Homo sapiens: one gene and its partner. The protein of the gene in region 1 purifies or fractionates together with the protein of each later gene. This does not show direct contact. Each region holds a gene or a part of one and is shown on either strand. Other genes may lie near its edges. The genes, in order: HDDC2 and TRIT1.

What was found.
Region 2: the proteins of HDDC2 (region 1) and TRIT1 fractionate together in Homo sapiens (co-fractionation; one large-scale study listed by BioGRID). This does not show direct contact.

Annotation. Positions count from the first base shown.
Region 1 is NC_000006.12:125,299,624-125,303,537, reverse strand, and holds the start of HDDC2 (5'-deoxynucleotidase HDDC2), read left to right. Parts: upstream 1-1,570; 5' UTR 1,571-1,605; coding exon 1,606-1,689; intron 1,690-1,777; exon of another isoform or gene 1,778-1,940; intron 1,941-2,185; exon of another isoform or gene 2,186-2,294; intron 2,295-2,878; coding exon 2,879-3,000; intron 3,001-3,914. UniProt on the Homo sapiens protein: Catalyzes the dephosphorylation of the nucleoside 5'-monophosphates deoxyadenosine monophosphate (dAMP), deoxycytidine monophosphate (dCMP), deoxyguanosine monophosphate (dGMP) and deoxythymidine monophosphate (dTMP).
Region 2 is NC_000001.11:39,845,383-39,849,196, reverse strand, and holds part of TRIT1 (tRNA dimethylallyltransferase isoform 1 precursor), read left to right. Parts: intron 1-1,099; coding exon 1,100-1,211; intron 1,212-1,449; exon of another isoform or gene 1,450-1,536; coding exon 1,537-1,649; intron 1,650-1,899; coding exon 1,900-1,977; intron 1,978-3,814. UniProt on the Homo sapiens protein: Catalyzes the transfer of a dimethylallyl group onto the adenine at position 37 of both cytosolic and mitochondrial tRNAs, leading to the formation of N6-(dimethylallyl)adenosine (i6A37).

The DNA of each region.
Region 1 (3,914 bases):
TCACTCCTTAAACCTCAAATGCCTCCTCCTCTATTCACAAACATTCTAGCCTCCTTTCTTCCCAGAGGCCTAGCAAGATTGCACTCCACAGGCCCCCTTTGAAGTTAGACGTGGCAGTGTTACTTATTTCACCAATGATACGTAGACAAAAGGTCATATATCACTTCCAGAGACAGGCTTTAAGAGCCAGAGTGCCACTTTTCTTTTTTCCAATTTTGGCAAAAGAGAGCAAAGAAAGCCTCCTAGCTCCCTGAGTAAGGTTAGAGCAAGCAGCATCCTCTAGCTGATCTACAATAGACACTTAGCATGAGAGAGAAATAAACCTTTGATGTGTTAAACTGCTGAGATACAGGAAATAAGGAGGTTGTTTGTTATTATAACATCCCAGCCTATACTTTGCTTCCTAATTTGGTGAGAAAATAGAAGCAATCAGAAGAGAACTTCTACAACCTCCCATGACCACATGTGCGACTGATTAGTCACCCTATACTCTGTCCTCCTCCAATATTTGAATGAATTCTCCATATTCCTATCTAAAGCCCATCTTTTATCTTGTACACCAGATGGGAATATTTTTCCTTACTCAAGGCCGACATTCAAATATTTCTCTTCTTTGTCTCTTACATAATCAATGTTTCCCTTTCTACTAGATCCCCTTCATCAGTAAACATACATAATATCTCCTGTTTTGAAACAATCTCTCCACTAGTTAACAGCACCCCAACCCCATCTCCAATGTGCTGTAATACTTGCTCCTATTCTCTTCGGAATTATCTCACTAGGTTCTGCTTGGCCCACTACACTGAAAACTGCTTTTGTCAGGGTAACCAATAATATTGAATTTACTAAGTCTGGAAGTCAAACCTTGGTCCTCACATTGACTTGGTTGACCATATTCCTTCCTTCTTGAAATATTTTTGTACATGGCTTCCAGGACACAACTATCCTACCTACTAATCCTCTTCCTACCTCACTGGCTGTTCCCTCTTGATCTCACAAAGCCTAAATGTTGGGGTTCAGGTCTTGGGTGTCTTTTCTTCTTCATTCACACCCTCTTGCCAGGTGACCTCATCCAGTTTCATGGTTTTACACTGTCAACTGAAGAATAACGAGGTTCATAAATTTAGAAAGGAGAGCTTTATTTTTCATAAAGAGTACTGAGTGTCAAGTATGTGCCAAGCAAGGTGTCTGCCACTGACGGAGCAATGCCCAAGCAGCGGACACCAAGGCCAAGAAGGCGAAGGCTGGACAGAAGGTCCTGAGAAAACCGTGAGAATATGGAGGAGGGGGAGGAGGAATAAGAACAGGAGGAGGAGGGGGAGGAGGAATAAGAACAGGAGGAGGAGGAAGAGGAGGGGGAGAGAGGAAGAGGGGCAGGAGGAAGAGGAAGAGGAGAAAGCGGAAGTGGGGGAGGAGGAGGAGGAGTTGGAAGGGGAGGAGGAAGAGGGGGAGCAGGAAGAGGGGCAGAAGGAAGAAGAAGAGGGGGAGGAGAAAGAGATAGAAGAGTAAGAGGAGGGGGAAGAAAGACAAGGGGAAGGGGAGGAGGAGGAGGACGGGGAGGAGCTTCGCCGCGGCCTGCTCCGCCCAGCCGGGGTCGGTGGCCGCATGGCTTCGGTCTCCTCTGCGACCTTCTCGGGCCACGGGGCTCGGTCCCTACTGCAGTTCCTGCGGCTGGTAGGGCAGCTCAAGGTGAGCGGGCACCAGGCCGGGAGGCCGCGGCCGAGCGGGCGGGACTGTGGGGCGGCGGAGCTTCCGGCCTCCCCGCTCGGCCGGCGGTCTTTGCCCTTCCTGCGCCGCGTCCGCCACGCCGAATTCCGGAAAGGCCCCAGTCCTGCGGATGCGGCCGCGCGTTGCCGACGGTGGACGGAGGAAGCAGCCGGCGGGACAGGCTGGCCAGCTGGGGCGGCCCGGAGTCTGAGCCTAGAGCCTGGCGCCGCGAGGTCCGCACTGCAGCCGCGCCAGTTCCCGGAGAGCAGCCGGCCTGGCCCTGCCTGCACTGAGCTTTTCCGGGGCTCACGACCCCAGAACTCGTGTGTGTGTGTGTGTGTGTGTGTGCTCACGACCCCAGAACTCGTGTGTGTGTGTGTGTGTGTGTAAAGCGCGGCTGCTTCTGAGCACGGGTGGGAAGAACAGAATCTGTCGGCTCCTCAGATTTTAAGTGGAGCTTTTTATGTCTGTCTCACAGTTACTTCCAGAAACAAGACTTTTCTCCCGGCCACCCCCCAAACGGGATTTAATGTAATACACACGAGTTTCATCATGTGCGTCTTCCCCGTCTCTCTCCCAAGTTCAAAGTAAATTATCCGTTTCATGCCACTCTGACTACTATTTATAACATTCCTTAGAGATGTAGAATTCTGAGGAAGAAATGCAGTTTCACAAGATGAAGTTATGATGTGAATAAAAGGAAGAGTCACGGCTGGTAGCATCAAGCAATTAGAAGTGCCCTTATCCCTTGTGCCTCAGAATTTGGAAGCCTATCACTCGTTCACGTTCAGACCCTTCAATACAGTGTTTTCTGCTTGTGTAGGATTATTTGAAGGCAAAAAGCCGCAACTCTTGTTCGGAAAAATGCAGTTTTGTTTTTGTTTAAAGGACTTGCATATGTTCCATAATTATACATCAGTAACAGAATAATTTGACGAATGGACTTTGTGACTTATCTCTCTCTGTCTTCTACCCCTTTCATTCTCTGAGCTCTCTAGTTCATTTGATTCCAGATGTCTATCATTTTAGCTAGTTTAGCAAAACATTTTGTAATAGGTTCTGAAATTATGACCCGGCTTCTGTGTGTTATATCCTGGACATCTCTTGAAGAGCATAGCAGATAGTTAATATTTGTTCTTTAAAACTTCTTTTTCTTCTTCATATTTATCAGAGAGTCCCACGAACTGGCTGGGTATACAGAAATGTCCAGAGGCCGGAGAGCGTTTCAGATCACATGTACCGGATGGCAGTTATGGCTATGGTGATCAAAGATGACCGTCTTAACAAAGACCGGTAAGCTGAGCTGGACTTTGATGCTCGTGAGAGATTCTGGTCTATGGGTGTGCACCCGTTTTTACTACTGAGACCCATGTCAAATCCTTGTAGGTTAGTTTATAGGTCAAGAAAAATTATTTGAAGCAAACCATACAAATTTAGGATGTGGGTTATGTTGCCTCAGTTGTTGTAAACTGCAATCTGGGGTTTCTGTTGGCAAGTGATAGAGCCTGCCTAGGGTATCAGGGGAAACTTAAGTGTGATATTGGGGCCTTGAAGGTGAGTGTGTTATGTCTAAAATTCTAGCATTGTATTAGTACACTGTGTGCTCTTTCCTAGTGCCTTTTATGGATAGTAGTATCCATTCGTGAGGCTTCCTTTTGGAGTTGTGTGTGCAAGACATAGCTGAGAAAGAGGTATCTTCTCCCCCTTCATTTAATCGACAAGTGTTAAAATGCTTTTTGAGCACAGAACAAAAGTTTACTAGCATGTAAGAGAGTAAATAAATCCCAAGTGAATTACGCAGGCCCAAAATAGCTTCTGTAAGAAGTGAAATGTAAGTTATGGTCGAAAATGTTAAGTATTGTAAGAGCAGGGGAGATCACCTGTTCTTGGTTGATCTTAATGGAGGAGGTGCAATCTGAGTTGAGCTCAAAAGGGTTAACGTAGCCAGAGAGGTAGGAGAAGTCACTGCATGCAGAGAGAAGGGCAGATAAACCAAAGCCCTGAGTGTAGGAAAGTAAAGGAGTATTTTGCAAATGAGAAATTAATCAACTTGACTGCAGCAAAGAGTTCATTTGGGAAGCCTGAGGAGTCCTCTGTTACTCAGCAGATGAAGTGGAACTGAGGAGGTTTTTGGCAAATGGTACAAGGTGAAAATGAAGTCCAATAGAGATGCAGTTTGGAGTAGTCTGGGATTTGAACTGGACCAG
Region 2 (3,814 bases), on another chromosome or scaffold:
TTAGATGAATTAATACATATATAGTGCTCAGAATGTGCCTGACACATGACGGGTCCTCAATAAATGCAAACTTTCTAGGAAGGTTACTGTTGCTGTAGGCCAATAAATCACAATGATAGAGATGTAGAAGAACATAATTAAAATGGTGACAATCTGTTGTTAAATTAATCTGCCATAAATTGATAAAAAAGGTAATTTTTCAATAATGAAATTTTATAAACAAAAACTTTTACTCTACAGGCAGCATAAAATAATGGTATCTGATTCATAGTAAAGCTGTTTGTCACATCTGAACAATTACGACCTCTCACTCTTTGCTCCTTTGCTTGGCTCAGTAGTTTAGAATGTATCTAGGATGTCTTTTTTTTTTGTTTGAGACAGAGTCTCGCCCTGTTGCCCAGGCTGGAATGCAGTGGTGCGATCTCGGCTCACTGCAACCTCTGCCTCCCGGGTTCAAGCGATTCTCCTGCCCCAGCCTCCCAAGTAGCTGGGATTACAGGCGCGCGCCACTACGCCCAGCTAATTTTTGTACTTTTGGTAGAGACAGATTTCACTGTGTTGGTCAGGCTGGTCTCGAACTCTTGACCTCGTGATCCACCCACCTCGGCCTCCCAAAGTGCTGGGATTACAGGCGTGAGCCACCTTGCCCGGCCGTATCTAGGATGTCTTTGGATTAAAGTTCCATGTTCTTATCCAAGGTGTCATCTAGGGGTTCTTAAACATAAAGTAACACTAAGTTGCAGTATAATGACATATTAAATTAAAAATAAGAAAGGTAAACCAGGGGATCCTCAGCCACCTCTAAAACACATTCCATATGAGAATAAAATATTTGTCCTTCACAGTTGCTGTAATTGTATGCTTTCTCTATATAATGAGGAGGCATGTGCTTCATTCTGACTATGCTTCATTTTTATTTGGAGTTGCAAAGTCTTAAATGTGAGTAACGTATGAATTATTATAATAATCTTTGGAATCTGAATTCTTTCTTCCGTTTGGACAAATTCTCTTTTTTTGTGACCACCTGTTCACTCGTCATGTAAGTATATAGTAGGTACCTACAACTTGCTTGCTGGTTGATGGGCTAATTTGATTCAAGTTCTAGATGAGCGCTTGGATAAGAGGGTGGATGACATGCTTGCTGCTGGGCTCTTGGAGGAACTAAGAGATTTTCACAGACGCTATAATCAGAAGAATGTTTCGGAAAATAGGTGAGGATTTGGCTGTTATTCTGACCTACTGTCCATATTTTGCAGACAATCAAAAGACCATAACGCTAATACTGGCTTTGGGTCTACTTGTTTATCAGCCTTCTTTGCAGATGCAGTTTTTTAATCTTTCAGACAGTCCCAGGAGTTAACTTTTCAAGAAAGTAACCTGGTGGGTAGGGGAGGGGAAAATTTCAGAGAATCAGTAACTGCTCAGGATCTCAATTTCCTTATCTGACAGATGAAATGGCTCAACTAGGTCCATCTCCAAAGCCCCTGCTAGCTTTTAGGAGCAATGGCTTATCTGCTGATACCCTCCTGTTCCCAGCCAGGACTATCAACATGGTATCTTCCAATCAATTGGCTTCAAGGAATTTCACGAGTACCTGATCACTGAGGGAAAATGCACACTGGAGACTAGTAACCAGCTTCTAAAGAAAGGTGTGAATTCTTCCATCTAATCTAGTCTTGGACATCTTTGGGTGGCAGGGTACTCTGCTGGTATGGTCTGAGAAAGAGCCAAGGCTTAAAGCGTCCCAAATAGCCTTCAGCTCAGAACTGAGATTTTTGTCCACCAAGTCTGACATTGCACTGCCGTGGCTGACTTTTTCCTGCTGGGCTGGGAGGGCCTGCCTCTCTGCAGGGTAAGGAGTGCTTACCTAGATGTTCTTAAATCTACTGTATCTTTCAGGTATTGAGGCTCTGAAACAAGTAACTAAGAGATATGCCCGGAAACAAAACCGATGGGTTAAAAACCGTTTTTTGAGCAGTAAGTCTCATGTTTTTCTTTATCCTATGGGTCTGTTTTCAATAGAATATAGATGTCCTCAGCTCACCCAGAAAATGAATTTTAGATTCTGGGCCTGTTCTAAGATTTTGGATCTGACCTAAGGGAAGTTCTATAACATAAATGATTATCCAGGGATATTTTCTTGGGATGTCACAAAAAAAAAAAAAATTATTTGCATTGAGGAGTCTGCCTTCTGCCTTGAACAGATGGATACTGGCTGCAAACAGCTAAGAAGAACAGCAGCATCTTTTTTGGAGAGTTGGTGTTCAGGGCTGATTTTTAGCTTCAGTTTTGTACCTGAAGAGCAGTCAGATTTCTGTAGGGAAGATTTCCTAATTACAGTGTTTTTGGGGGGCCAGATGAGTTGTATAAAAAGACACCTTCACCATTTCTCCCAGCGTCTCCACATGGTGCTTCAGATTGCTTCAAATGAAACTTTAGTTGAACAGCATTTTTGAGGGAAAAGAAAGGAAATTCTCATTGATTTGGCCCTGTACTGTGTCTTTGGCACTAAATTTGGTGTTATACATATATTATTGAGTCTTCAAGGTAGGTGTTATTCTTTTATTTTTACAGATAAGAAAATGAAGGCCTAGTGAAGTTAAATAACTTGCCAAAAATCACCCAGCTAGTCGGCAGTAGATAACTGAATGCAGGCCTGACACAGAGTCCACACTCCTTTATACTACTCTTACTTCCTTTAGCTGTAACTTTAGCAAGACAGCATTAGTATTGGACCATGGGTAAAAACTATGTGGTTATGAGCTAAAGGAGATTAATTTAAGCATAAGTGAAACTTCAGTTTTATCTTGTGGACATGTTTTAAATATGCTTCTGAATCATCTTGTGTTTACCTTTTGCTGGTAGACTTCTGCTCTCAATTACAGACAGGGCCAGCTGAAGCCTCTGCCCCACTCGGTGCCTCTGAAAATACATACCTTGATCCCTGCTGTTGACCACTAAACTGCTAACATTCTTTCTCCCAGCTCCCACTCTCTGCCTGAGCTCTCCAGTGGAGTTCTGGTGTGAAGAGGCTTGTTGTGCTTTCCTCTACTTATCCTGTTTTCTCTGCATGTCCTGGTAGATAGAAGTCTTAGTGTCATCTGAAGTTGAAGCTCAGTGCTGTATTACAAATTTCTAATGCAGCTTCTCTTATCCCCATGTCTGACAATAAGCCTTTAACAGAAGACTTTTGGGTAATAATTTAGAACTTCTTCCTGTAGTAAAACCACAATAATTCCTCCATCTCTGTGGTAGGAGGAGTTGATGGCACAGTGTGTCATATGCCTGTTCCTCATTCGTGTGTATGCCGGCATCGTCCTGGTGCTGGAGTGAAAGGCACAGCTGCCCTGTAAATCAGGAGCTGTGCGTGATTGGCCAGGGCTGGTCTGCTGGGATATGGTTCTGGCAGGAAGCCAGGGGGACTTCCCCACCCCAGCATGGCCTTGGACCCAAGCCAGAAATAGCAGCTGGGAGCCGAGAACTTGTTGAAAGGTGCTTAGACAGGGCACAGAAGCCCAACAAAGGGCTTAGAGGAGAAAGGAAAATGTAGAGTGGCCTGGAAACAGGTGCAGAGCTTAGCCAAGGCCAGGTGTGCTGTGGATGCTGCCTGCACCCTCCTAGTCTCACCTTTCCTGTGGTAGCAGGTGCAGCCCAGTCCAGTTTATGAAGAATCTTATTTGGGGTTGGCACAATCAAAAGGCCAGCACCTGCCAGTCGTTGGCATCCGAAGGCCTTTGATGTTTTTGCCCATGGGCGATGCTCCTTTGCCTTTAGGCAACTGACTTAACCTAGTTGTGGAAGGCAGTTTAGTGTG